Linked DNA regions of Homo sapiens: all the other regions are linked to region 4. Evidence: fine-mapped QTL for protein levels in blood plasma. A gene starts in region 4. Each other region holds a variant in brackets. All regions are shown on one strand. Distances are between the middles of the regions.

Region 1 (7,255 bases), 270 kb after region 4:
TTTTCGCACCGCACAGCTGCAGTGTGAAACGCCGGTCACTTCCAAATGTCCGTGATGGAGTGAAAATGGTCGAGTGTGTGAGGTCTTGACCCCTGGGTCCACATCTTTTCAACGTCCTGCCCGAGCAACTGGAAGGCGCGCCTGCCCCACGTCCACGCTGAGGAAATGCAGGTGTGCAATGGGCTGAGCTGCCGTCTGGATCTGGAACACACGTATGGAGCACACTTTTTACTCAAAAAAAGGATGTGCAAAAACTCTGGTTGTTCAGCCTTGGGTGTCCTGGCAGACTTTTTTTTTTTGGAAAACGAACAAAGTGAGCCTGTCTCATTCAAAGAAAATAGCTGACAGCATTTGTTACCAATGATAAAATTCAAGCTTTCATGCAAAAATCAGAATTCTGAAAGACACCACCATGAGTTCACCACCTTTCCAACTGAAAGACTTTTCTAAGATTGGTGATATCGCCAAAAGTGATTTTAAAATACTGATTAAGGAACTGTGTCAGCATTTGGAATATCCGCATAACTTAGTGAACCAAAGGCCCAGCGTGTGAGGTCACAAAGGCATGATGGACAGAGTCCTTGAAGCACAAGACGGACCAATGGATTCTCCTGAAATGAAGTAGAAGTTCATTGATAGGGTATCAGATTCCACACACAACCGGCCAGTAAAAAACCACCACCTGTCGGCCGGGCTAACACCTGTAATTCCAGCACTTTGGGAGGCCGAGGCGGGTGGATCACGATGTCAGGAGATTGAGACCATCCTGGCTAACACAGTGAAACCCCATCTCTACTAAAAATACAAAAAATTAGCCAGGTGTGGTGGCGGGCGCCTGTAGTCCCAGCTACTCAGGAGGCTGAGGCAGGAGAATGGCGTGAACCCGGGAGGCAGAGCTTGCAGTGAACCCAGGAGGCGGAGCTTGCAGTGAGCTGAAATCGCGCCACTGCACTCCAGCCTGAGTGACAGAGCGGGACTCCGTCTCCAAAAAAAAAAAACAAACCACCACCTGTCCAGTGTTGGAATAGGATCACGGAAGAATATACCGATTATTTGCAAAGGTTATTAAAATGTTCCTTTTCTTTTCAAATACACATCTGGGTAAGAATGAGCTTCTCCATTCACTCCTATACTTCACAACCAAAACACCCCCAAAGTGGACGGACCCAGAGCCTGCTGAGAGGCCAGTGGGCTTCTCTTAAGCCAGAGATTTACGACCATGTAAAACTATGCCACACTTCTCCCGAAAACTTTTTGTTTTGGAAAATATATTTTTCATACAATTGTTATTTATGTTAATATGTCATGGGTTTATTGCTATTTTGAAATGAATACATGTTTTCTAAAGGTCTCAGGTTTAATTTCTAATAAGATATTCTAATGTGTATTAATATTGGTCATTAGAACTCACATAAGCAAAAGTTCTTTGGCACTTTTAATGAATTTTATTTTATTTTATTTTTATTTATTTATTTATTATTTTTTTTTGAGACAGAGTCTCGCTCTGCTGCCCAGGCTGGAGTGCAGTGGAGTGATCTCAGCTCACTGCAAGCTCCACCTCCTGGGTTCACGCCATTCTCCTGGCTCAGCCTCCCAAGTAGCTGGGACTACAGGCGCCCGCCACCACGCCCGGCTAATTTTTTGTATTTTTAGTAGAGACGGGGTTTCACCGTGTTAGCCAGGATGATCTCAATGTCCTGACCTCGTGATCCGCCTGTCTTGGCCTCCCAAAGTGCTGGGATTACAGGTGTGAGCCACCGCACCTGGCCCACTTTTAATGATTTTTAAGAGCGTTGAGGGGTCCTCAGACCAGTTTGAGGACGGCTGCCGCAGGGTGGCCTGTCTAGGAGTGGCACTGACCAGAGGAAATGCGTTTCTTCAGCTTTAGGACGGGACACCAAATTGCTCCTGGAAGCGGCTGCACCACATCCCACCAGCAACGCAGGAGTCTCCATTTCCCGACGTTCGTCCTGGCCTCCAGCAGCCACATGATCTCAGTCTGCGGTTCCAACTCCCCGACTCCGAGGGAGGCCGAGCGGTCTTCTCACGCTGACTGGCCTTGGACTTTTGGCCCCGTTCTTTTTTCATATGAATTTAAACATCATCGCGTCCATGTCAAAACCAAGAAGTGATATTATTGAGACTATGTTTGGAATGACATTAATAAAATGATGACATTGACTTTGGAGCTTTCAGGAGTGTGCGAAGTTTCTCCAGCGCTCAGGTATTATTTAGATTTTTCAGTAAGACTGCATAGTTCTCTTCAGTAGAGGTCCTGTTCCTTCTGGGTTAAATTCATTCCAACTCTGAATGGGATATTTCTTCATCCTCATTTTCAACAAGTTTAAGCTGGTTTAAAGAGCTCCCAGTCTTTTGTACATTTGGCTTTCTGGGTATACAAAAATGAAATCTGAAAACAAAGGTAACTCTACTTTCTTCATTTCTTATCCTGCTTATTTTATTTATCTTTTTTTAATTTTTTTTTTTTTTTGAGACCGAGTTTCACTGTCACCCAGGCTGGAGTGCAGTGGTGCAATCTCAGCTCACTGCAACCTCCGCCTCCCGGGTTCAAGCGATTCTCCTGCCTCAGCCTCCCAAGTAGCTGGGATTACAGGCATGCACCACCACGCCCAGCTAATTTTGTATTTTTAGTAATGACGAGGTTTCTCCATGTTGGTCAGGCTGGTCTTGAACTCCTGACCTCAGAGGATCCTCCCGCCTCAGCCTCCCAAAGTGCTGGGATTACAGGCGTGAACCACCGTGCCCGGCTTTTGTTTATTTATCTTAATGCATTAGCTAAAAACGTCAAAACAACATGAAATACTACAGGTGAAAAGCAAGCACATCTGCCTGGCTCCTGATTCTAGTTTTCAATGTTAACATGCTGCTTTGCTGAATCTTATCAAATATTTTAGCAATGGCTGAGATCATTTTTTTTCTCCTTAATGGACCAACAACTAAGGAAGAAATCAGAAAGTTGTTAAGGACATGCTGCTGATGAAAGGCACCAACCCCACGATATTCTACAGCTGAGTTCTGCTGACATGAGGCGATGCTGCTCCAGCCTGGAGAAGGTCGGGCAGCGCCTGCCCCTTCTCTAAGGTGATGGAAGGGCATGAATCACTGACTCTGATTAGAGAGGGCGAGAAGAAAACAGACCAAACCACTTCTAACCCAAGCACAGCAGCGACTCGCGGTGTGCTGTCCCGGATGCCTGGCAGTTACTGAAGTACCGGTGCGTCATGGCTGACTCTACAGCAGTTTCAGGGTGAAGAAGTTGCTACATCATTTAGAACCTCCATCTGTTATGTCTTGTGGGAGCGTCCAGCCTAACCTTCCTGCCAGGGCCGCGGGCACCCTTCCCTCTCGAGGGCTTGTGACTGGCTCCCTGTTAGGAGGCTGGGGAACCCCACACTGGCCCCATGGGAGCTGCTAGCCAGCCTCAGTGGTCAGCAGCTGGGGGCAGGTGCCTGTGTCATGGCTGGGTTCCCAGCATCTAGGGTGGCACAGGTGTCCAGTTGGAGCCCAGTGTGTTTGTTAAGCAAATGATTTCTTGGGTGGTGTCTTGCCTACGAGGCGGGTGGGTCCCGGAGCTGGAAACTGGCTAGAGCAAAAGCTCCCAAAACTCAGGCCCGCATCAGATGTGCCCGCATCCTCTGTCCT[C/T]CTGGGGCCACCCTTCCTTCTGCTTCTCGGCAGGTGCTATGGCAGCCACACTGGCTTGCAAGAGCTGGCTCTGTGCATCTCTTCTCAACCACAGGGTCAGCGGCGTCATCTGGCAGCTGGAAACTGGCACCGTAGCGCTGGCTGCTGCTCCCTCCTCCCACCACTGCCGCCGCTCCTTACACCCTCACGACACTCTGCCTCTCATCCCACAGCAACATGGGCCGAGTCCTCGGCACACAGGCTCTGGGGAGATGGCTGAGGAGGGTGGGAGCTCCAGGACCCTCAGAGTGAAGTGAATCCTGCTTGCCCAGCTCCCCTTTGGGCTCCACAGAACACGCCGGCCTCTCCTTCACACAGGCAGGCCGAGGGCACCCTCCACACCACCATGGTCCACAGGCTGGTCCCACACCCAGTGGAGTCCAAGCTGCTCTCTTGCCTGGCTGACCTCAAGACCCCCTAGAGGGTAGGATGAGCTGCTGCTGCTTGTCGCAGGATGACTGCAGCACTGCCTGGCAGGATGCCTGCTGCCACACCTGCCTCTGCACCTGTCTCCACGGCCTGCTCGCTTGGCAGCCAGAGGGAGATTTTTCTGAACCCTGAGTCAAACCATGCTGTTCACCTGCTGACCCACCTGCCAACAACCTTCTATTTGGGCAGCAACTTGCCTAATTCCAGGAGGTGACTCAAACACACCTGGCCCCAGCCTCCTTTGCAGCCAGGGCAACCAGACGCCCGAGTCCCGGCCAAGGAGGCTCATAGAGAATTCAGCTTTGGGAAAGCTGGAGCTTCTAGAAAGAGTTTGAAACTGGTGGAAGGGCCGGCAGTGAGGTGAGCTTGCAGCTGTGGCCGCTCCACCACCCCTCTGTCCCCCACCGATGTCAGACCCAGAGCTGCACTGGCCAAAAGACTCCCACTAAGCTTGAAAAGCATGAACACTCCTCCCCACGGGCTGCACGGGCTTCCGTGGCCTGGCTGCTGGCCACCAGCCTCCTAGCTGCTCCTGGGCTTGCTCCAGTGTCCTCTGCCTCTGGGCCTTCGCACTGGCCGTTCCCTGTGTGGCCACTGTTCCCAGCTCCACGTATGTCTGCCTCCGTGTCCTCAGGCCAACCCCTCCCTTCCAGCACTTATCACAACCTGCAACCATTTCTCTACTGACCCATGTGTCTTCCCCGCATGGGAGCATAAGCTCCAAGAGGCCAGGGCCTTTGTGTCATCCACCATGATATCTCCAGCACCCAGAACACTCAACAGGGCTGTGCATGTGAACAGGTGTTACGACTTTTATTAGTGTCATTGCTAAGGAGGCAGTGGAAACACCTGATGCTCCAAACAGAGCTGAATAAAAGCCTCCTGGAAGGTCGCTGGGGTTTTCATCAGGCGTCAGAGGCCATTTAAGGAGAGACGCAGAGGTCCTGGTGAGGGAGGACACAGGGTTCCCTTCAGGAGAGAGCTCCCCCAGCTCCAGCCTGCCCCAACCCGTTTCCATCTGCTTTCATTTTCGGGATCCATCAATCAGGGCATCCTCACCAAGCCAGCAACAGCAAACTGTGCGTTCCAGGCAAGAATGAAAAAGTATACGTTTAATATCAAAGCCACGTCAAGTATCATTGATAGTAACGACACTGGAGAGTGGCTCTAGGACGTTCTTACTCGGAGTGAACCCCAGAGGCCCTGGCCTGTGTCCGAGGAAGGGCATTCATGCTGGAGACTGGAGCCTCACGGTCCCCAGGGCCTGGGGGTTCCTCAAAATACCCCTCAGAAGGGACATCCTGCCAGAGGCCAGGTGGAAGGCGGTCTCCGCTCGCGGGGCGGCCCCCTTGCCCGCCTGGCCTGAGTGGCCTGCCCTGGGTGGCCTGAGCAGTACCACCAGCCGCCCGGCCCCGCCGCCGCCGCCGCCTGCTGGCCTAGACGCTGGACTTGGTGATGATCCTCTCCAGCAGACTCATCATGCGCTCCTGCAGCTGCAGGCTCTGCACCTGCAGGATGTGCTGCTGGTCCAGCACGCGGCGCACCTCGCGGCAGGTCTCCTCCACGGCGCGGCTCAGCCGGCGCTGCTCCTCCACCATGGCCTCCAGCAGCCGCAGCTGCTTCTTCTGCAGGTGGCAGCTCTGCACCTTGCGCTTCTTCACCGGCCGCTCCTCCGACCTGGAAGGACAGTGCCGGCTGTGGACGTGCTGGCCACAGAGCCTGGGCACACCAGGGGCCTCACCGGACCCTCCCGACAATCCTACTGGGCAAATGGGGAAACTGAGGCCCCAGGGAGTCAGGTCACTTACTCAGGGTCTCATATTCCATGTGCAAAGGAGGGGCCAGAACCCACCGCCTTTGACAGAAAGTAACAGGGGTGGCCGGGTGTGGAGGCTTATGCCTGTAATCCCAGCACTTTGGGAGGCAGAGGCAGGTGGATCACCTGAGGTCAGGAGTTCAAGACCAGCCTGGCCAACATGGTGAAACCCCATCTCTACTAAAAATACAAAAATTAGCCAGGCGTTGTGGCGGGTGCCTGTAATCCCAGCTACTCGGGAGGCTGAGGCAGGAGAATCGCTTGAACCCACGAGGCGGAGGTTGCAGTGAGCCAAGATCGCGCCACTGCTCTCTGCACAAGAGCGAGACTCCGTCTCAAAAAAAAAAAAAAAGAAAAAGAAAGAAAGAGAGGCCACAGGCATTGCCGTCCTTTGCGACTAGCGGATGACCCCAATGACCAGGGTCCCAGGACAATCCACACCCCTTCGGTCTGGAAAGGGTGGGATGTTCTGGGCTGCAGAGGGGCATATCCTGCCAGGGAGCACCCTTCACCCACCAAACTGGGCAGGTGGGGGCTCAGCCCCAGTTGGGGGCCAGGGGTGGAGAGACCACCCCCAGGGAGAGATGAAGGCAGGGGTGGGGGGTGCTGGGTAGTGCAGAGTACTCAGGACCCCTGTAGGGAAGCCAAGACCACCAGCCCCACCCGGCCTTAGGCAGATGGGGAAACTGAGGTCCCAGAAGGAAGGGCCTGAGATGTGAGCCCCCTTATCTCCCGGCGGCCTAGAAATGGGGCCGGCACACCTTGGTAGAGAGGCAGAAGGACAGGCACCTAGAGGGTGTGGGGCCCACAAGAGGCCTGGGCTCTCTCCCCAGGACCTCAGAGCTCTGGTAGAGGTGGTGAGTAAAGGCAGTCCAGCCCTGTGGGCGCCTCCTGAGAGCTCTGCTGCTGGGGTAGGGGCCACCCGTGGTCTCAGCAGACCTCCCTGAAGGGCAGGGAGCTGCCAAAACCCACAGACCCCAGGGCCCTGCTCCAGTGCCTGCTCATCCCTGGCCCACACTCTGCTCTGAGCTGAGAGGGTACAGCCAACCTCAGGGGCGTGAGATCCGCGCTTTGGGCCTGATCAGGGAGGGCAGCCCCCACGCCCCAGTCCTGTGCAAGGCCCCAGGCAGCTGAGTCTGAGAACTGGGCTCAGTCCACGGGAACAACAGCCACAAATCTCAGGCCTCCTGCTGGTTCCTTCTAGCTGCCAGCAAAAGCGTTTTTGTCTCAGGTCTTCAATGAGAAATCCTGAGTCAAGCAGCGGCCCCCGGCATGAGAGGGACCCTCCTCGGAGACGCCTTCTCTACT
Region 2 (6,825 bases), 16 kb after region 4:
TGCTGTCCTCACCACCTGCAGCCGGGAGAGCCAGGCAAGCCCGGGGTCACCGGGCTGCTGCCCTGTCCCCCTCCTTGGGATCTTCTGCTCCCCACCCCAGCCAGCTCGGTAGCTGTCCCCTGTTGAGCCTGGACACGTCCAAGAGAAGGGTGGTTGCCTGCCGGCAGCTCTTCTCCGGTTTGTTTTTTGTTTTCCTGCCCTTCGTGAGGCCAAGAACCTGGCCTGGCACTCACGTAGGCAAGGGCCTGCCTGGCCATGAGGAGTGGTTGGCTGAAGAGCGGCCCTGGCCACACGAGCCCGCGGCGGGTTCACTCCAGGCCTTGTTTCCCTCTTAGGCGAAGACCTCTGGGAAATTCTCCGGCGAAGAACTGGACAAGCTCTGGCGGGAGTTCCTGCATCACAAAGAGAAAGTTCACGAGTACAACGTCCTGCTGGAGACCCTGAGCAGGACCGAAGGTGCCCCCCGCCCCCACCCCCTCCTGCCCTCTGCCCCACCCCCTCCTGCCCCCCACCCCTCCTGCACCTGAGGCTCGTTGTGCTCAGTGGGCAGCCTCAGCTCCCCTCAGGAACACAGCAGGGGCAGGGAGGCGGCACCAGACGCCCTCCCAGGGTTCCACCGGACTTGTGAGTGGGGAGGTTGCTGTGCAGGCAGGCTCTGGGAGTCGCCTGCCTGCATTGGATGAACCAAGTCTCACCGGCGCCTGCCCCCACTATGGGCACAGCTGCTGCCTTTGTCAGACCTGAGCTTCGCTGATGGGTCCTTCATTCTGGACTCGTGACCCTCCCCAAATGTGTGACTTTCCCACCCCACAAAGCTGGAGTAAAATGGAGGGTGACCCAGCAGAGAGGGGGCAGGGCAGGGGTCCAGAGTCAGCCCCCAGGGGACCTGGTGCCCCAGCTGTCACCGCCAGGCGCCACTTGGTGCGCGTGTCCCGGCGTCTCGCCTGTCTCGCCTGGAAAGGAAGCTGTGCCAACGGTCGTTTCTGCGGCGCTGCAGGACCGCGGAAGGGGGACATTTTCAGCCCAGAAATGAGAGCGAGTTTGAGCTCCCCAGCAGTGGGCGTTCTAGACAGTGGTCTGGGCAGGCAGTGCGAGGACTCCCAGCCTCATGGCGTCCTGCCTTCGGTTTTACAGAAATCCACGAGAACGTCATTAGCCCCTCGGACCTGAGCGACATCAAGGGCAGCGTCCTGCACAGCAGGCACACGGAGCTGAAGGAGAAGCTGCGCAGCATCAACCAGGGCCTGGACCGCCTGCGCAGGGTCAGCCACCAGGGCTACAGCACTGAGGCTGGTGAGTGCCCGCCCGGGACTGTTGGTTCCCGAGGGTGGGGCCGTCTCTGGTTGTGTTTTGGGGACAAGCAGGCAGGTGCTTGTAGCGACGGGAACCTGGGCCTGTGGACGCAGCGGAGACCCTCGGCGCGCTCAGTCTACCCACGGGTGGTCACAGGCCTCGCTCCCAGGAGCTGCTCCGTGAAGGTCACTCGCCGTCCCCAGCCTTGTACCTGGAGACTAGCAGAGGGCAGTGGCGGCAGCGGGCCTGGGAGCAGCCCTTCCCAGCGTCTCCCCAGCCTCAGCAGCACGGCCCCTCCCGTGCTGCTGTTGGCCAAGAACAGAGACCACTCGTCAAACATAGCTCCGTCTCCATCTCATGCCACCCACACCGTCCATCAGTCCCCCTCAGCCCGGCAGGGGCAGGACGCCCGCTGAGGCCACAGAGCTTGTGGCTCCGTCTCAGCAGCTCATCTCCCTCCACTGCAGGCCCTCAGTGGCCAGGCTCTGCACCACTGCTTCTTGCCCCGTACCCGGGCCAGAGCCTTGTGCAGGGTGTACCAGAAGCCTGCTGGCCTCACTCACGCAGCTTCCGATTCTGTACCTCATCCTCCACGTGCACACTGAGCACCAGCTGCACGCCAGGCACTGCTCTAGGCTCGAGGAGACAGCAGCCGCCAGGAGATGGCATCTGTGCCCTCATGGTGATAAGACAGCAGGGCTGGTCTCTGTCCCCGGTGCCAGGCAGAGCCACCGCCTCGTCTCCAGGATGGTCTGCCCAGAGGCAGCCTCCAGCACAGCAGTCAAATGTGTCCACGCGGGCCCAGGTCCCCTTGGGTGGCTGTGCTGCTGTCACCTGAGTGCCCTTGGGCAAGACCCCTCACCACCCACCCCCAAACCCAGGCTCCCTTAGCCTGACCTGGTGCTGGTGACTGTCAGCCGTAGGCTTTTGGCCGTAGTGCTGGGGGCTGGACCACCTTGTAGGCCTGCGATGCAGTTTGCTGAGTTCCTGTGCTGGAGAGACCCGGATGAGCCTGGCTATAGTCCATGCAGGAAAGGGCGACTCAGCCCCACACACTTCTCTTCCCACCTCGGGCTGTCCCCAAGGCAGTTGTGTCCAGCGGCTCCTGCAGTTCTCTTGCGGGTCTGCCTGGGCCTTCCAGCAAGCCCCACCAGCCCAGGGTCCTCGGGGTCCTGAGCAGGAAGGGGTCAGCAGAGGAGGGAGCAGGGGCCACTGTTGCGGGGCTCCATGGGCAGGCGGCTCTGGACTACTCACTCCTGGTTGGAGAGTGGTGACAGCCCCGGAGTCTCTCACTGCGTCCCTTCGTGAGCACCAGGGTCCAGGAGCCGTCTTGGTTTGTTTGGCTCCTCCCAGGAGCCCGAATGTTTGACTTTCACGAGCACAACATCCTGCTGGAGACCCTGAGCAGGACCGAAGGGAAACGGCCTGTGCCTGCGTCTGGACCTGGCTGAACTTGCAGGTGCCCCCACCCGAGGTCCTGGCAGCCTCTGCACACAGGCCACGTCCATCCTCTGCCTCCTGCTTCAGAGGCAGCCAGGGCGGGCTGTGGCGCTTCCCAGGCTCTGATGGAGGCAGGTGTTTCTGGACACAAAGGAGAAGCAGTTGTTTGGCCAAGGGGACAGAGAAGCCACATTTCAGCGAGGTCATGTGAGCTACTGAGCAGATGCCCTCTGTGCCCCATAAGACTTTGAGTGCACGCACCCGTGTTTCACACACATGCAGGTCGCGCCTGCAAACCCTCATAGGCTCCACGCACACTCAGCGTGGTTGCCGCGGGGCTGGCTGTGGTGTGCACCCCGGGTGCTGCTGAGGCCACTCTTGCTCCTCCCCTGCAGAGTTCGAGGAGCCCAGGGTGATTGACCTGTGGGACCTGGCGCAGTCCGCCAACCTCACGGACAAGGAGCTGGAGGCGTTCCGGGTAAGGAAACACGGCCCTCTCCTTCTAGCTCTCTCCTGTGGTGAAGATTCTCTTGCAGTTTCCGGGTAAGGAAATGCAGCCCTCTCCTCCAAGCTCTCTCTCTCAAGATTCTCGCAGTTTCTTCCTTAACCACTCGGTGAACCTGCTTGCGTTTTCCTTCTCATCTGCGTGGGAACTCGTGTTTCAGGGGCGGGGCCAGGCTCTGGAGGGAGGGGCTTTGGTTCTTTTGTCCGTGTTCACGTCTGAGCGTGGCCTTGGTGCGGGTCCTGTGGATGGTCAACAGTTGGTCGGGACCCAGCCACAGCCTGGGGGGAGGGGACCAAGGACACTACCGGGATCGTTTAGGGGTGTCACCACTTCCTGAGATGGAGGCCCAGGGAGGGAAGGAGACCACCTCAGGTGGCAGGGGCTCCTGGGGCGTGTGGAGTGCCAGATCATTCTGAGGGTGGAGAATTCATCAGCTCGGTGAGCACCCAGCAGGGCTGTGAGGAGTGGGGAGTCCATCGGGGGTCCTGGGTGGGCAGCCTTGAGTATGGTATCCGGCCATGAGTTCACCCAGGGTCCCTATAGCTGGTGTCTGTTGGGAGGGAGGTGGGTGTGGTCCTGCCCTCATAGGACTTGGGACTTTCCTGGCCCCAGGAAGGGCCCTTAGCACCTCCCCCAGAAAGGGGTCAGGAGCTTCCCTCTGGGGCTGGGGCACCTTAGCTGGCCGCAGGCACGTGCATGGGGCTTGGCAGGTGGGGCCACATGGAGGGCCCTGGGTCTGGAGCGTGGGGTCAAGGCAGGGCAGGGCACCTACAGGAGCAGGGACAGAGCTGCAGTCCAGCAGCAGTGGAGCCCAGGCAGGCTGGGGGCAGGGTGCAGAGGCAGCCACCACAGAAGCACAGCCCCTGGACATGGGGTCTGGCTGGGAACGAGCTGGAGGCCCCCTAGATTCGGGGGGCGGGGGTGCCATTTGCAGAGACAGGGAAGGGGTCGGCTTAGGGCTGCCAAGGAGGCGCGGGCTGGGACCCGTTGCTAGTGTGATGGCCTCCCAGCTGCCGCCCCCTCATTGCCCATGTCACCGCAAGGCCTGTCCTGCCCCGGGTATGGCGCCGTCCTTTGGCGTCCTTGCAGTTCACCCGGGACCACAAGATGGCGTGGCGAGCACGGGAAGGGAACACTCACCTATGGAAACCTTGTTCCAGGAGGAGCTCAAGCACTTCGAAGCCAAAATCGAGAAGCACAACCACTACCAGAAGCAGCTGGAGATTGCGCACGAGAAGCTGAGGCACGCAGAGAG[C/T]GTGGGCGACGGCGAGCGTGTGAGCCGCAGCCGCGAGAAGCACGCCCTGCTGGAGGGGCGGACCAAGGAGCTGGGCTACACGGTGCGCACGGGTTCCAGGACCGGGGAGGCCACAGTTCCCCTGCAGGAAAGATGAGGCCGCCCACATGCAGCTCAGGGCTTCCTGTAGATGGGGTGTGGGCCCCACGCTGCTGTCTTCCCTGTCCGAGTTGAACCCCAGGGCCACAAGTGTGTGGGGCACTGAAGGCCACAGCAGCCATGCTAGGGGAGCCCCCCGGGCTTGTAGTGCAGTCCCCCGACCCTCAGGTGAGAGCGCAGGCCCCGGCGGGCCACTGCCTCGTCCTCCTGTGACCAGGATGGGGCGTGACCTGGATACCCACAGCCAGCCCATGAGTCAGGGCACTCTCCAGCCTTTGAGACAGGCGAGCCTCCTTCCCCACAGCCCCTGGGATGTGAGGGGAGGAGGGGCAGAGCCCAGGAGAAGCTGAAGCCAGCGCACAGCCTTGCCACAGAGGCACAGAAAACCCTGGAAGCTCATGCCAAGTTCTTTCTGGAGGGAGCTGGGGCTCAGGAGCCCCATCTGTGCCTTTTAAACTTTGAACTGCAGGCATGTGTTACCGATTCAAAAATAGCAAAGGCCTAAAAAATAAATGAAGGTAGAAGTTCTGATAGGAGAGGGTGGTGCGGGTCTGCCTGGCAGAATGTGCAGGAGAGCAGCCTGTGGCCCTTGCCCGTGGGCAGGAGCTCAGGTCCAGGGTGAGCACCACCATGTGGGGTTTGCAGGGCGCTCCCGCGAGACGCGGGGATGGAATGCTAGCGTGCACCTAGCTTCACCTGACCACGGCAAAGCTCGGTGTTGGTTAAGAAAGCCGTGTGGCACTGCCTGAGGCACCCGCACCGTTGGGGCAGAGGTCAGGGCCGCTGAGAGAAGGGACCTTCGGTGAGTTATTCACCCTGAGCCACGGGCTTCTATGTGGAGAGGGAGGTGGCGCCCACGAGCAGGGTTTTGTGAGAATCTGGGGAGAGCTACAGTGACCCCAGCCCAGGCTGGGCTGACGCAGCACCTGCTGCCACTGGGGTGGTATCTGTGGGGATGCTCTGGGCTGTTGTGATGTGAGGAGCTGGAGGTCCCTCTCCTTCCCTCCCAGGCCCTGAGGAGGAAGGCGCCTTTCCCAGAGCTCTGTCCCAGTCTCTCTGGTCATTGCTTTTAAAAATAACACTGTGGGGCTGGGCACAGTGGCTTACACCTGTAATCCCAGCACTTTGGGAGGCTGAGGTGGGTGGATCATCTGAGCTCAGGAGTTCGAGACCAGCCTGGGCAACATGGTAGAACCCCATCTCTACCAAAAGTAGAAAAAATTAGCCGGGCGTGGCGGTGGGCACCTGTAGTCCTAAGTACATGGGAGGCTGAGGTGGGAGGATCACTTGAGCCTGGGAGGCAGAGGTTGCAGTGAGCTGAGATCATGCCACTGCACTCCAGCCTGGGTGACAGAGCGAGACCCTTTCAGTAAGTAAATAAATAACACCATGGGCCTATCACAGAGACCCTGAGCTTTCCACTTCAGCATGAACTGCTCCTGGCTGGTGGCTCTTAGCGTTCTTTGGTGGGATTTTCTAGTTAGTACTGAGCTGCTTTTGTGATTTGAGCATTTCTGGATGGGTGTGGAATTGGAAAGTCAGATGTGCAGGGCTTGCGCCTTTTCCTTTTGGATCGCGCGTCTCCTGACATGAGGCTGAGCTCACAGAGCTGGCCTCGAGGCGCGCTGTCCCCAGCTGATGAGACGTTTCTGTCCACAGGTGAAGAAGCATCTGCAGGACCTGTCCGGCAGGATCTCCAGAGCTCGGCACAACGAACTCTGAAGGCATTGGGGAGCCCAGCCCGGCAGGGAAGAGGCCAGCGTGAAGGACCTGGGCTCTTGGCCGTGGCATTTCCGTGGACAGCCCGCCGTCAGGGTGGCTGGGGCTGGCACGGGTGTCGAGGCAGGAAGGATTGTTTCTGGTGACTGCAGCCGCTGCCGTCGCGACACAGGGCTTGGTGGTGGTAGCATTTGGGTCTGAGATCGGCCCAGCTCTGACTGAAGGGGCTTGGCTTCCACTCAGCATCAGCGTGGCAGTCACCACCCCAGTGAGGACCTCGATGTCCAGCTGCTGTCAGGTCTGATAGTCCTCTGCTAAAACAACACGATTTACATAAAAAATCTTACACATCTGCCACCGGAAATACCATGCACAGAGTCCTTAAAAAATAGAGTGCAGTATTTAAACCACCCGCTTGTTGGCTGGTCACTAAGTGTCCTGGTGGCTGGGGCCGGAGCCAGTGCTCTTGAAGGGA
Region 3 (7,255 bases), 360 kb after region 4:
AGTAAGCCTTCAACTAAAAGCTTCAAGCAAAATACCTGGAAAGTCTCAGCTCCAGTTTCCTCTCTAGCACTGACACGCCTGAGTTCACATGCCACAAACGGCACCATTTACCTTATCTGCACGGTTCTTTGTGACACTCGTGAGGTTTGTCTTCAACTGGGTAGACACTTTCTGGAGGACATCAAACCATCTGCCAAATGGGAATAAAAGGGAAGCAGAGAATGAGAATATCTTTAAATAATCTCCTCTGCACTCAGATATACTCCTGCTCAAACCAATTTCACATTCACACGATCAGAACGTGTCAGATTGAGAAACAACTTGAAAGGCCACTCAGTGTGGCAGCATCGCCCTCTTCAGATAATGACACTCTATTTAGAGTTTACAGCTGCCTGACAGCCATCAAGTCTCCTCACTCGCAGAAGGCTACTCAAGTCTGAGCTTTTTTCTGCTACAGGAAACTGACTACTCAGCCCAGTCTTAAGTGAGATTTGAGAGAAAGGTGAAGGTCATTTAAAAGATCAGTAATTTAGAAGAAATTACATGATTTTTTTGGAGGACAAGCCTTTAAAATATTTACATCAATGATATCCCTTCTAAGAAACATATATGAAATTAACCCAAACATGCACACACTCACATGCTTATTAATACCCCAAATGGTTACAGAAAGCATTGAAACAGACTTACTCCTGAAACTCCAATATATAGTAAGTACATCACTAACATACAGCCTGGAACATGGGTATTTTCCTTGACTCCTGACTCTAGTGTTTTAATTGTAGCTATTTAATCGCTAAATTTATAAAAGGAAAAACAAGGGATTCTATTATTGCTACTATACAGATTAGCAACTCAAATACCTGTTCATACTTAAGGCAATTTAAGAAGTCCTGTATACTAGGCATTAAAAACACAAACATAAATTTAAGTGAAAAGAGGCCGGGCGCGGTGGCTCACGCCTGTAATCCCAGCACTTTGGGAGGCCGGGACGGGCAGATCACGAGGTCAGGAGATCGAGACCATCCTGGCTAACATGGTGAAACCCCGTCTCTACTAAAAATACAAAAAAAAGTTAGCCAGGCGTGATGGCAGGCGCCTGTAGTCCCAGCTACTCGGGAGGCTGAGGCAGGAGAATGGCATGAACCCAGGATGCAGAGCTTGCAGTGAGCTGAGATTGCACCACTGCACTCCAGCCTGGGCGACAGAGCAAGACTCCGTCTCAAAAAAAAAAAAAACAAATTTAAGTGAAAAGAGACTTCTAGTCATAAAGCTGACAAAACACAAGGTAATATATCCAAGATGCTTCTATGGCCTTCACACACCTCTGAACACCAGCACTACTGTGCTGCTATGAAGCTGTTCTTTCATCCTTGTTACAGGCCTGAAAAGTGCCACCAACACATGCCACACCACTCTACAGGTCCTGTGCTTTGAATGGGTGGGGACATTATGAACTGCATTCTGGTTTGCTGACACACTTTGGCAATGAGAGCTGGCTGCTTCTCAGCCCACTCAGTGTTCCTCCTCCTCTACCCCCACCTCTGAGATGTGTAAGTCCCAAGCCCATCTCACTCACTGGCCACACACTTCTTGGAAGGCCGGGCTATGCCTTAAATCATCTTTGCATCAACCATATATATCTCCTAGAGTTCTCTGAATACAGCAGACTATTAGAAGATGTTCGCTAACATTTTTCGTTTTTATTCTTTTACAAAGTATTTCCTGCTTGCTCTTTCGTGCTTCCACCAACGACAGCATTCTTGCCACAACTGTTACCCCGAGGTGTCGTTCTCCTGCTCCGCCTGCACCATGTTCCTCAGGCTGGCGTCAGCGAGGGCCTGGGTGAAGTGGGTGTACGGGGCCATGAAGCAGTAGTGGTACAAGCCTGGCCTCACACTGGAGGAGCCAAGGCGCTGTGCTCGGCCTTGTGACTTGCTGGGGTTGGAAGATAAGCCATCAAACTGGGAGGCCAAGTTTGTGCCAAAGAGAGTCTTCAACAACTACAGTGAAAAAAATGAGGCATCAACAATGTGGCGTGAACAACACTTTTAAGAATCTCCCACACAAATATCAAATCCATCTGTAAATAACTGGATATGTTAGCAAAGACTCACAGCGTGAAATTCTTCCTGTGAATCACTATTAATACCTCATGAGATATTGTATGAAGTGCTGTTTGTACCTTAAATAGGCGTTTTGGGTTTCCTTGCAATTCTAAATGAGATTGAGCATTCTAAACAGAAACTCCGAGGGACTGGAAGTTAACTAGCGAGGTTGCAGAGGAGCTTCTGGTGTCCTCTGCCCTCCACAGTGACAGACCTCGTCCTCCTGGGGAGTGAAGGGAAGGATGGCCTCTTGGCTCAATCATGGACTGAGCCAAAAAGTGCTGCGCTGGACCCCACAATCCTCCCAGCTGATTATGCCAACAGCGCCTGCCTCTTAAGGAGTAGCAGCGTTTTGCTGTCATACCCGAACGTCTTAACAGAAGAGGAAAAGAATGAAGCTCTTACTTGTTGAACACAAACAGTTGCCATCATTGGTTCTCGACTAAAGCAGGATTTCAGGTATCCTAGGATCTCTTCAACACACTGTAGAAAGACAAGTGAGACATTAAGCGACTCAGAGATGACCCGTTATTGTACGAATCCTAGACAGAAATTGAAGGTACAAGATAACTTCCATTTAAATTGTGTAAATAGTAGAGGAAAATCAGAGGAAAGTTTTCAATTTCTTATTTTGAACAGTCAGTAAAAAGTCTTGAAATCCAAGTTATATACATTACAACCATTCTTTCATGCATTTATGTATCTGTTCATTCACTCATTAATTCAATAAACTGTTATCAAGTACCTGTTGTCTATTAGGTATCCAGTCCTGTTCGCAGGGCAGGAATTCAGAAGTGTGCAAAGCAGCTAAGAGCCCTGCATCTGTAGAGCCCCTGAATATGTTCAGTGAACACAACTATGATACAGCAATGTGTGATTTACCACAAATCAGTCCTAGAATTGTCTTAAAATAATCTGCAAAAATGACCAAATAACTACCTTAATGTTACTCTTCTCACAAGCATTTTTATCAACATCTATAACGAGATGTA[C/T]AGCACCCAATGTCCTTTTCAAGAATCAAGAAGGGGCTGGGAGTGGTGGCTCACGCCTGTAATCCCAGCATTTTGGGAGATCGAGGCAGGTGCATCACTTGAGGTCAGGAGTTCAAGACCAGCCTGACCAATATAGTGAAACCCCATCTCTACCAAAAATACAAAATTAGCCAGGCGTGGTGGCGCACACCTGTAATCCCAGCTACTTGAGAGGCTGAGGCAGGAGAATCGCTTGAACCAGGGAGGCAGAGGTTACAGTGAGCCGAGATGGCGCCATTGCACTGGAGTTGTTACCTGGGCAACAAGAGCGAAAGTCCATCTCAAAAAAAAAAAAAAAAGAATCAAGAAAGAAGAAGATGCTAACTCAAAGAGCGCCACCATTCTGAATGCCTAGATACCTAGGCATTCAGAATGCACAGCCTGTTTCACCACTGCCTGGCTAATCACGAACTGGTTTCCATCAGCTGCTAAAAGCCAACACCAATTAGACTGAAAATGCCTCTCTCTCCACTTGTTTAACAAAATATCCTCTACTAATAAGCAATAGATTCTTGTTGGTTTCAAATACTCAAGGGCCACACATTTTTAAAATTCTGATATGCTCAAAGTATATTCTAAGTGTTTAAGGTTGTTCTTGTCAGAATTGAATTTGTCACACACCACTTTTTGTTTTTACTAGCTCCCAGCAGATACCCAATACATGTTAACTGAAAAAATTACAAATAGAACCTGTGAATCACTACTTGTCTAACAAAGGACTTTAACAAATGTGTATGGAATGCTTGATGTGCACCAGAAACTGAAGCCCTGGAAAAGGTGAGAAAGCATGCTGTTTCTGGCCTTTCAAGAGCTCCCCAAGTACCAGGGAACCAGGGCTCTGCTACAAATACTAATATCTAATGTAATAGAGTGAGACTTCCACTACTGAGCACAATGAGGGTGAGGGACTGGGTTTACCCTCCTGCCTGAGACAACCAAAGCAAACCAAAAAACAAAACAGACAAAACCCAGAGTCCTCAAGACACTGGACATGAGCAATGAAGGACAGTGATCCCTGGGAGACGAGAGACTAAGTCAGCCCTATGGCTGCCCCAACTCGCTGCTTTGAGAGAGTTCCTAGGCTGTGGCACAAGGAGGAGGGACAGGCAACCCTCTGAATTGAAGAGGTGCTGAGAATCTAAGGAGACCAAGACAGCCACAGTTCATAAGACAGAGCACCAGAGAAGAGAAAACAAGACAGAGAGAGCTCTGGAGATCTGGGGAAGGTCCCTCTCGAGTACTCAGCAGAGATATGTGTGTGAGAAAACTCCCTGAGGCCAGGGAAAGAAGCATTGGAAAGGATTAGAAGGAGCAGAGCTCAGCGCTCACACAGGGCTAGAAAGTCACTGTTCTCAGCAGGCGGACTGGAAAACCCAAACTTTCTGGTTCATTAGGTAGAGTACTCAGGATGGTCTTGCCTCCTAAGCATGGTACCTAATTATTCCTAAAGAGGAATAATTAGTCCAAAAAAAAAATTAGTCCTAAACTAAGCACTGCTCCAACCCATCTGACAAATTATAAAGCAAGACCCAAAAGAGTAAACCATCTATATGTAACTCAACTAACCTCAGAACAAAGCTCAAGAAGATCTATGGGAACACAAAAATATATAGCATCCAACAAAGTAAAATTCACAAGGTTGGGCATCCAATAAAAAATTGGCAGCCATACAAAGAGGCAGGAAAATACAACCCAAAACGAGGAGTATCAATCAACCAATGAGAAACACCAAGAACTGGGAAGTTATTAGAAGATCTTAGAACTAGCAGAGAAGGATATTAAAACAGTTATTACAATTGTGTTCACAAAGCTAAACAGAAACACAGGGAGACATTTTTAAAAGACCTAAATCAAACTTCTAGAGATAAAAACAAAATTAGTGATATACACTGAACAGGGGCCAGACACGGTGGCTCATGCCTATAATCCCAACACTTTGGGAGACCGAGGCGGATGAATCACCTGAGGTCAGGAGTTCAAGGCCAGTTTGGCCAACATGGTGAAACCCCATCTCTAATAAAAATACACAAATTAGCCAGGTGTGGTGGCACGTGCCTATAGTCCCAGCTACTCGGGAGGCTGAGGCAGAAGAATTGCTTGAGCCTGGGAGGTGGAGGTTGCAGTGAGCTGATATCGCACCACTAAACTCCAGCCTGGGCAACAGAGTGAGACTGTTTCAAAAACAAAAAAAAAAATACGCTGGACAGGATTAACAACAGATTAACAGATTAACAACAGAGTAGACACTGTAGAAGAAAAGATCAGAGAACTTGAAAACACAATAATAGAAACTATACAAAACAGAAAACACATAAAACAATCAAACACTGAAAAGAGCATCAGTAAGCTATGGGACAACACTAAGCAATCATTCAGGAAATCACAGCCCCTTTAAGAGAGGGAAAAAAGGAGGGAGGCAGGGCAGAAAAAAAATCTTTGAAGAAATAATGGCCTAGCTGGGTGCAGTGGCTCACGCCTGTAATCCCAGCACTTTGGGAGGCCCAGGCGGGCAGATCACGAGGTCAGGAGATTGAGACCATCCTGGCTAACACAGTGAAACCTCGTCTCTACTAAAAATACAAAAAATTAGCCAGGCGTGGTGGCAGGCGCCTGTAGTCCCAGCTACTCAGGAGGCTGAGGCAGGAGAATGGCGTGAACCCAGGAGGCAGAGCTTGCAGTGAGCCAAGATAGTGTCACTGCACTCCAACGCAGGCGACAGAGCGAGACACTGTCTCAAAAAAAAAAAAAAGAAAGAAAGAAAGAAAGAATGGCCTAAAATTTTCCAAACTTTAAAAATACTATGAAGCCACAGACCCAACCTCAATAAACCCAGGCACAAGAAACACAAGATATAAAAAAACTACATCAGGGCATATCATTATCAAATCACCCAAAACAGACAGTATAAAGTCTGTCACCCATGCTGGAGTGCAATGGCATGATCATGGCTCTTTGCAGCCTCAACCTCCCAAGGCTCAAGCAATCCTCCCACCTCAGCCCCGAGTAGCTGGGACCACAGACGCATGCCACTGCGGCCAACTATTTTTGTTTTTCTTTTTGTAGAGACAGTTTCCCGGTTTGCAGATAAAGTCTTAAACCAGACAAAACATATAAAATGGAACAGTAAGGAGTTACATGAAAAATCGTCTATAATATAATGCAAAAGAAAAATCCAATGCATAATACATTTCAATTATGTATAAAAATGAGTATGGAATAAATAAGGATTAGAAGACAAGAAAAAACATTACCTGTCAAGAATGTGGAATTATTATTTTTTATTCCTAGTGTTGCTATTTAGAAAAAGAAAATGATTCTATTTTAATTCTAAAGTCTCTGTGCCTTTAAATCCTGGAACTAGGTAAACTCACAGAAGTCTGAAGAAAACCTGCTCATACCCGTCGCCACATCAAGCTCACCTCTCCAGCTACACTTGTGCTCAGACCTCAACACCCAGCCCCGCACACATGCAGAGGCCTATGCATGTTGGTGCAGGGGCTCTGATGCCTTCACCTAAGCAAGGTCACAGATAAGGCTCAATAGTTTGTATATCTCAAGCCTGGCCTGACAATCTAAGCATCTGGATATCTTTCCAGCTGCCTCAGAACTGCTGTGTGGCAGAAAGAGATCTGAAACCTTGCCATGCTGTGAGTCAGTGAGGGAGATTCCTCAAAACAGTCAGGGGCCAAGTGCAAACAAGAACCTGTGAAAGCTTCTACCCTACATATCCCCCTCTAAAAGACCACGGATAAAAACTCAACAATTAAGCAGGTGAGGCTTCCAAAGTACAAACAAAAGGATATGCGAGAAAGCTAAAATGGGCCTCTGTCTTGAAACAGCAAAAAAGATGAACTTAGAAAAACAAAAAAGGAGAGGTGAGTAAATCTACCTTTAACTGTAAAGACACAGGCCAGAGAATAAGATGCTTAATTATCCAGTTATTCTTATGCCAAATGTAAAAATTTTCAGAGATGAGCTTATTATCTTTATGTACCTTTAAAAATATATACATACACACACAACCATATGGCTGATTTCAAGAATATAAAGATCAACTAACATCAATCTTCATTAAATTGTGACTTATTAATAATTTACTTTTATTATTTGGATAAG
Region 4 (7,255 bases):
CTTCTCGCACCCTTGCGCTGGCTCCCTCCAGAGGGCTCCATCCCCTGCCCACTGTGCCTTCGTGGGTGGTGCCCAGATCTCTGTCTCCTCTGCCCTGGACCCCTCTGCCCCTGACTGGCAGATCTATAGAGTTCAGTGCCCCTGGAGGGCTCCACGTCCATCCCACAGGGACCCGGACTCTCATCTTCCTCCTGAGCGTGCTCTCCCTGGAGACCTGGCATTGGAATTCGCCCTGCCACCTTCTGGTCTCCCCAAGTGGAAACCTGGGCGTCAGTCTGGACGCTTGTCACCAAATTCTGTCCCTTCCACCTTCACATGGCCTCTCCATCTTCACTGCCTCCGTGTCTCTATCTCATCCCGATCACCTTCGCCTCTCCTCTGGCGGAGAGCACCAGCATTCCCACTGGTCTCTGCTTTTCCTCAAACGCATCTCTGTGTAACTCTCCCCTCAGGATCACTCTGTGGCCCCCATTGCTCTGGGTGGAATCTTCCTTCCAGTGGCGTTTCAGTCCCCTGGGTCTGCCTCACTCTTCACCACCGTCTTGTGCTTCTGCACTGAGCTCCAGCCAGACCACCTGCCTGCAGCCACCTGGCGCTACCTGTTCCCGTGTGCTTCCTGCCTTTGCCTGGAGAGAATAACAATCTATAGTCCAAACTCAAGGACAAAAACAAACTGCTTTTTGGCCGTGGTGGCATGAAACCCCAATAAGTCAATGACAATGCTGCATGCTTCTGAAAGCCGGCCAGTCAGGGACAGCCCCACACTACAGAACAGGCCCAGGCAGCAAGAACCTTGTGCCCCTGAAGTCAGGCTGAACACTCTCACTTCTGAAAGCTGGACAATCCTCAATGCCAGGCTTCCCAAGAGACTCAATTTGTTTTGCTCTGAGAGATGGTCCTATAAGCACAGTTCCCCTTTTCTCTCGTAAGCAAGATACTCAGCTTCAGCACTGACCAGCCTCACAATCCGTCCTCACCAAGTGGAGGGCCCTCCCTCCGGGTTCCTCCACGGCCGTATCTGTCTCTGTTCATACACCTTCCCCTCAGCACTTAGAGACACGGGCTGGCATGGCGGGTGCTGGCGGCAGGGGTGAGAAATAAACTTTCAGCCCTAGAGGAGGAGCCCAAGAGGAGAGCATGCCGTCACCTGGAGTCTCTGGTATGTGCCTGGCACCTGTACTGATTGCATTAACCACTGTGATTTTTTAGAAGATGTACTAGTTTGAAATGTATAATACATACGGAGAAGTGTATGAAATATGTACAATTTAAAGATAAGGAAAAATGCATGCCTGTGTGCCCACCACCTAGTGAAGAACTACAACCTGGACACCACTTTGGAAGCCTGTCTGTGTTCACCCGTCGCATTCTCCCTCCTCCCCCAGCCCAGGTATCCTCCATCCTTTAGCCATCCCCTGACTTTCTTTAGTTTCATTGCCTGTGTATGCAGCCACGAATAAAATATTGCTTAGTTATCTGGGAAACCGGGCTGTATAGGAAAAGGGCTCTTAGAACCCCACACCACTGTCAGATGCAGGATCCCAGAAGACTCTGCTCCCAGTCCAGCTTCCAATTCCTGTGGGTTTATAACGGGCCTTTCTAGAGACACTGGGGGCAGGATTCACAGAGCTGGAACATTTGCAGTTAGGACCACATTCCAGATGACCAACAGGGACATGCTTGGGGGGGATAGGCCAATTTGGACTATCCCCTTCTAAGCCCACCAAGACCTACCTGTAGCTCTCAGGAGTGGGGTCAGGGCAAAACATGTATGTGGGGTAAAACAGGTGACCTCTGATTCTAGGCACCAGGAGATGGAGAGAAGAGCAGGAACGAGGGAACACAAGGGGAAGGCAGGCACAGGTGAGAATCTAGGCCAGGCTCACCTGGCCATTCTGTCCTGAGGCTTAAAAACATGCAATGATGGCAATGACAGCATTTGATCTGTCTCTGGAGTCACTTCGCATGAGGTCATTCTCCCTCCACCACCCTCCTGGGGGATTCCTTTACCTCCTCTCCCCCATACATCCCATATTGGGAACTTGTGCTTCCAGCTAAGATGCAGTAACAGACTGAATTTACCCTCTTGCCTGAAACAACTCAACAGCTGGAAAAAAAGAAATGAAACGATGGCTCTGAAAATACTAGAAAAGCAGCACAGGACAGAAGCAGATCACCTTGATTCCAGGGACCTGAAATCTTCTCTGGAACAACACAAGATACAATTTAAATGTAAATTAGGGTAGGCCCAGTGGCCCACGCCTGTAATCCCAGCACTTTGGGGGACCAAGACGGGAGGGTTGCTTGAGCCCAGGAGTTGGAGAACAGCCTGGACAACATAGGGAGACCTAATTTCTACCAAAAAATTTCAAAAATTAGCTGGGCGTGGTGACACGCACCTATAGTTCCAGCTACTTGGGAGGCTGAGGCAGGAGGATCGCTTTAGCCCAGGAGGTCGAGGCTGCAGTGAGCCATGATCATGCCACTGCACTCCAGCCTCGATGACAGAGACCCTATCCCCCCACGCAAAAAAAGGAAATGAATTAACATTAATTCCTCTCAAGATGCCCAGGCTCTATTCACCCCCTTTGTCATTGTCCCTCCAGTTGGAAATTCCTCCCTCCCCCCGCAAAATCCCGCCCACCCTTGGAGGCCTTTTCAGATCATTCTTGCCAGATGAGCTCCCCTTGTCCCTTCTCTGAGCCCAAAGGGGCCCAGCTGCTGTCTGTCTCCCTCCTTCCCCTTGTTTCCCGCGCTACCTCCAGGGCACTTCCCAACTCACTGGCCAAGCCCCCAACGAGCGGTCTATGCTAACTTTGGCTCTGTGAATTTCCTAGAGTGTCATGGGTTGGGGAAAAGCGCGCGAAGTCCTGCCTTGCAGCAGGCGCGAGAGCAGGCGCTTGGGACGCGGGTTGGGGCAGGGGCCCCGGGACGTAGGGGGACGTCTGCGCGGCCCTGCGTCCCCGGGACAACCTGGCCTGGGCTTACCCACGGCCAGGCGCTCCGCGGAGGGCAGAAGCGGGCTGGGCCAGGCTCCTCAGCGCCAGGCCCGGGCCGCAGTGCCAACCCCGCAACGGCACTGGACATGCAAGAGTCGGCGTCAGTGCGCGTGAAGCCGGAGCATTATCAGGCTCAGCCAAACGCGGCCCGGTTCTTGGGCTTTCCGCTCTTTCTGTGGGGCAGAGAGGGAAAGAGGCCTCGAGTCGTGCGGGCTCCAGGCTCCGGGCTCTGGGTGAGGCCTGATCCCTGCTCCCACCCGGCCACCCTCATTCTCCAGTTGTATCCCCTGCCAGAGTCTGCAGCCTCGGGCCGCGGCGTGGTTGCCTGGGAAACGCTTGCGCCTGCGCAGGGCTTCCTAGGCGCTGGAGTCCGCCGGCGGCCTCGCCGCTGCCGGCCGCTCACGGAGGAACTACAATTCCCAGGAGACCGCGCGGTGGGTGGGGGCGGGGTAGTGGGCGGGGCATCGGCAGGCTAGGTTTTCTCCGCGCAGCGCCAGTCGCAGAGGAAGATGGCGCCGCGGAGGGTCAGGTCGTTTCTGCGCGGGCTCCCGGCGCTGCTACTGCTGCTGCTCTTCCTCGGGCCCTGGCCCGCTGCGAGCCACGGCGGCAAGTACTCGCGGGAGAAGAACCAGCCCAAGCCGTCCCCGAAACGCGAGTCCGGAGAGGAGTTCCGCATGGAGAAGTTGAACCAGCTGTGGGAGAAGGCCCAGCGAGTGAGCGCGGCCCGCGGTCGGTGGAGCGGGGCCTGGGGGCGGGGGCCGTGGTTGGGGTCGTTGGAGCGGGGCCCAGGGGTCGGAGGCGGAGGGGGGCGCAGCCGGGGCACCTGTGCCCTACGCGCCCTGTCCTTGGCACAGCCTCCCCCAAGTGTCAGGTGGGGCGCCCCGACCCCTTCTGCAGCAGGAAAGGTACCCGTGCCGGCGACGACGCCGTGTGAAGCAGGTGGCGGCCGGCACCCCGAGGGTCAGTGTCGCCCTCCCCAGCCTGGGCGGCCTGCTGACCCGAGCGTAGGGACAGAACCAGGCTAGATCACAGGTCTCCTGCCTCCCGAGCCTTTGCCTGTTCCCTCAACCTTATCTCCCTATGTGGGGAAACAAGAAAAACAAAATGTTGGGTAGAAAGACGTGTCCAGGGACAGAAGGAATCCCAGTAGCAAGCCCGTGCTTGTTCATTTGAGCGAGAAATGAGGAGGTGAGGAGATGGGATCGGTTTAGAGCACATAAAACGCGACCTTGGGAATGCTGAAAGTCAGTCTTAACAGGGCGCTCACCTGACCTCTCCTTCATTTGAGAGATGAGGGTACGGAGGCCCCGAGGGGAAAGGGCACCCCCAAGGTGGCTCGGCCGGTGGGGCCCCCCGGGACAACAGCTTCCTAATTGGTGCGTGACCCTGGGCCAGCTGCTCTCTTCATTAAGATACGGTTGCTTCATTTGTTAGGTGTTCCTGAAAACACCTGAAATGGGTGTTTTCGAACTATGCCGACCATCTGGGCCTCATTATCTCATCTCAAATGCAGGAGTCAGATTAGATCTCTGTCTCAATAGTCCAGTTTTAAGCATTCCTGAGTCTTTGAGAGGGAAAGTAAGTGATTTGCAGAATAAGAAGGAACTTTTGGAACGAAAAGGGAGAGGAGAAACAGGTGGGGGACAGACAGACGACAGACGGTTATAAGACTGCGTGGGGATGGGGATTGACGCCTGGGCATCAGCTCCACAGGCCCTTCCTGAACTGCTCCTGGGACCAGCAGTCAAGCCCCAGGCGTAATGTTCAGCCTGCGGAGGTGGGAGGTGGGAGAACGCTCTGGGCTGGAGCGGCAGGGCGGCTTCTTGGAGGAAGGGATTCTGGAGGGGCTGGGGACACGGCTGGGTTTGGATGTGTTGATGGCCTCCCAGCAGCAGGGAACAGGTGTGACCAGGAGCAGCCGGGATGCAGTGCTGCCTCCCCGTGCCCACTGCACTGGGCATCTGTTGAGTGGGTGGAGTCCCCCCTCCCCATGAGGAATGGGGAGCCCGAAATAGACTCCCTGACCGATTGGAGGTGGCGCTGAGGAAGTGCACTCGGACCCAGGAACCCCAGCGGCTCCCTTTTGGGTGCTGGCCCAAGTCTTCCACCTGCTCTGCAGGGCCGCCCTGGTGCGCTCCACCTTACCTCCAGCCACCTCCAGCTGGTCCTCTGTCTTTGTCAGCCCAGGCCTCCTGCAGCAATACACCTGCCCTCAGGCTGCCCCTGCACTGGTCCAGCTACCCTCGGGCTGCCCCTGCACTGTCCCCCGGTGCTGGGTGCTCGCCTGACCAGTTTCAGTCTTGGGTTGGGTCATGTCTCCTAAACCTCCCTGAGGTTCACTGGGCACCATGGTAGGGCGAGCTGCTCACCTCCACTTTGGACTGAGCCTTGGACTAGATGATCTTTCTGGTCCCTTTAAGTCCTGAAGTTCTAGTTGTGTGGGCAAGTCTTTTTTGCTGAACAGAACGTGAAGTTCTTCGGGGGTGAGGGTGTTTTGGGGGATTTTGTGTGTCTTCCCCCATTCCAGAGAGCCTGGTACTATGGCAGGCAGGCCTGCAGAGCCCATTCGTCCTGATTTTCCTTCCAGATAACGGAAGCTTGGAGGGTGGCGGTGCTGTGAGGGTGTTCTATCCTGGAGCCAAGTGTGCAGGCGTCAGACCCGTCCGGGTCTTTTTGAGGTTCTCAGTGGCGGTAGTGCATCCCGGGTGGTCTTTGTGCTGTGGCTCTTTCTGCCGAGCGTGCCAGGGCCCAGGGTGGTCAGGAGGCAGGAGGAGCCACAGTCAGTTCAAACGTAGGGGGAGAGAATTGTTCGTGCAAATAGTCACTCCAGTCGGCTTCTTACCCCACCTGACTCGCCGCTCTAGGTAGGTATCAGACGGAGACGGGGTCTTGGATCGCCCCCTGGAAGATAATTGAGGTGAGGGCTGCTTTTTCAGAGAAGCACTTCCTGCCCGGCTCTGCAGCCACTGCTCTCAGCCTCCTGCGACCTGCGCTCAGCAGCCAGGACGGTCTTGTCCTTTCTTTGGTTTGCTTCATGAAAACATCGTGTCCCTGTTTTCTGCATGTAAAGCCACATCCTGGCATATAGGATTGCGTAGTGTGTCAGTAGGCATAGGGTGAAGGGAGCGTTTCAGGAAACCTTTGCCTTTGATGGGCTTGGGCTGTGAGACCTGCGTTGAGGTTGCCGCCAAGAAGATGCTGAGACCCGCTTTCATCAGGCGAGACCCGGCCAGGGGGGTGCTGCTTCATCCTCTCCAGCAACTTGAATCTTGACTTTCTGTGACTCTCCCAGTTCCTCTTTCACAGGCGGGCTCCACTGTGTTGCAAGACTCCTGAGCAGAGGCTGTCCCTGGAGCTTTGGAGGTCAGAGGCCATGCAGAGCCCTTGTGCTCACAGACGACTTCTGAGGACTCTGCCTCTTCAGAGCTCTGTGTGTTGTGTTGATGCTGAGGAGTAAGCTCCAGGGTCTGCATGGTCCAGCTGCGGCGCTCAGGGACACACTCGTGTACCTCTTGGCCTGGGCTGCACGGTGCCATGAGCTCGGAGTCCTTGGCCATAGGTCCTTAGTTTTTTTGGTTTTTTGTTTTTTTGTTTTTTTTGAGACAGAGTCTCACTCTGTCGCCGAGGCTGGGGTGCAGTGGCGTGATCTCGGCTCACTGCAACCTCCGCCTCCCAGGTTCAAGCGATTCTCGTGCCTCAGCCTCCTGAGTAGCTGGGATTACAGGCATGCACCACCATGCCTGGCTAATTTTTATATTTTTAGTAGAGACGGGGTTTCACCATGTTGGCCAGGCTGGTCTCGAACTCCTGGGCTCAAGTGATCCTCCCGCCTCTGCCTCCTAAAGTGTTGGGATTACAGGTGTAGTCCCAGGAGGCACCGCACGCAGACAGTCCTTAGTTCTGACGTGAATGGTGACTGCAATGAGAGTGTGTGAAGCATCTTGTTCTCAGAGGTCTGACGAGTGGAAACTGAGGTCTGCAGAGAGGAGCCCTCAGAGCCCCACCCCAGCTCTCAAGCGTCCCCCCTGGCTTGAGAAGGGCCTCTGAGGATGGGCCAGCCAGTGGCCTCCATGGGCACCTAGGACTCGCCAGGCCAATGCATGACCTCACAGCAGCTCAAGGCGGGTACGGCTGTGCCCTTGTCCACGGAGCTCAGGTGGAAGGAGCTGGGGCACAGTGGCTGGGCTGGGACAGTGCATGCCACCTGCCGTGGTGAGACAGGTACAGCGTGCCAGGAAGCCTTGGTCACCGCCACA

Direction of the effects. Alleles are on the strand shown, and positions count from the first base shown. The strength of an association depends on the size of the effect and on how common the allele is. Not every link is listed here.
With allele C in place of T in region 1, the plasma level of the protein whose gene starts at base 3,499 in region 4 is higher (moderate association).
As copies of C replace T in region 3, the plasma level of the protein whose gene starts at base 3,499 in region 4 goes up (weak association).

Evidence for each region. A credible set is the group of variants that fine-mapping cannot tell apart. PIP is the chance, under the fine-mapping model, that this variant and not a neighbour inherited with it causes the effect. Protein levels are from antibody-based Olink assays in UK Biobank. Linkage for the fine-mapping came from a reference panel and not from the study's own genotypes, which makes the PIPs less certain.
Region 1: its variant is the best candidate, but not a certain one, in a credible set for the plasma level of the LRPAP1 protein (UK Biobank, PIP 0.88).
Region 2: its variant is the best candidate, but not a certain one, in a credible set for the plasma level of the LRPAP1 protein (UK Biobank, PIP 0.63). The variant lies in the coding sequence of LRPAP1. If it changes the protein, the assay may bind it differently, which can mimic a change of level.
Region 3: its variant is the best candidate, but not a certain one, in a credible set for the plasma level of the LRPAP1 protein (UK Biobank, PIP 0.55).

Annotation. Positions count from the first base shown.
Region 1 is chr4:3,254,278-3,261,532 of GRCh38, reverse strand. MSANTD1 (Myb/SANT DNA binding domain containing 1) reads right to left here. Exons shown (of 3, transcript NM_001042690.2): 3 at 4,920-5,808. The coding sequence ends at 5,568. Among named protein-coding and RNA genes, the nearest start is that of MSANTD1, 8.7 kb to the right of the region's middle. The variant C/T (reference allele first, on the strand shown) is at 3,664.
Region 2 is chr4:3,512,502-3,519,326 of GRCh38, reverse strand. It overlaps LRPAP1 (LDL receptor related protein associated protein 1), which reads left to right. Exons shown (of 8, transcript NM_002337.4): 4 at 336-456; 5 at 1,135-1,293; 6 at 3,129-3,211; 7 at 4,399-4,575; 8 at 6,291-6,825. The coding sequence ends at 6,353. Among named protein-coding and RNA genes, the nearest start is that of LRPAP1, 17 kb to the left of the region's middle. RefSeq lists enhancers at 2,514-3,133, 3,399-4,598. The variant C/T (reference allele first, on the strand shown) is at 4,494.
Region 3 is chr4:3,167,656-3,174,910 of GRCh38, reverse strand. It overlaps HTT (huntingtin), which reads right to left. Exons shown (of 67, transcript NM_001388492.1): 30 at 2,514-2,591; 31 at 1,780-2,003; 32 at 112-190. Among named protein-coding and RNA genes, the nearest start is that of MSANTD1, 78 kb to the left of the region's middle. The variant C/T (reference allele first, on the strand shown) is at 3,101.
Region 4 is chr4:3,528,666-3,535,920 of GRCh38, reverse strand. It overlaps LRPAP1 (LDL receptor related protein associated protein 1), which reads left to right and starts at 3,499. Exons shown (of 8, transcript NM_002337.4): 1 at 3,499-3,712. The coding sequence starts at 3,509. RefSeq lists silencers at 3,260-3,319, 3,760-4,009 and enhancers at 3,510-3,719, 6,877-7,255.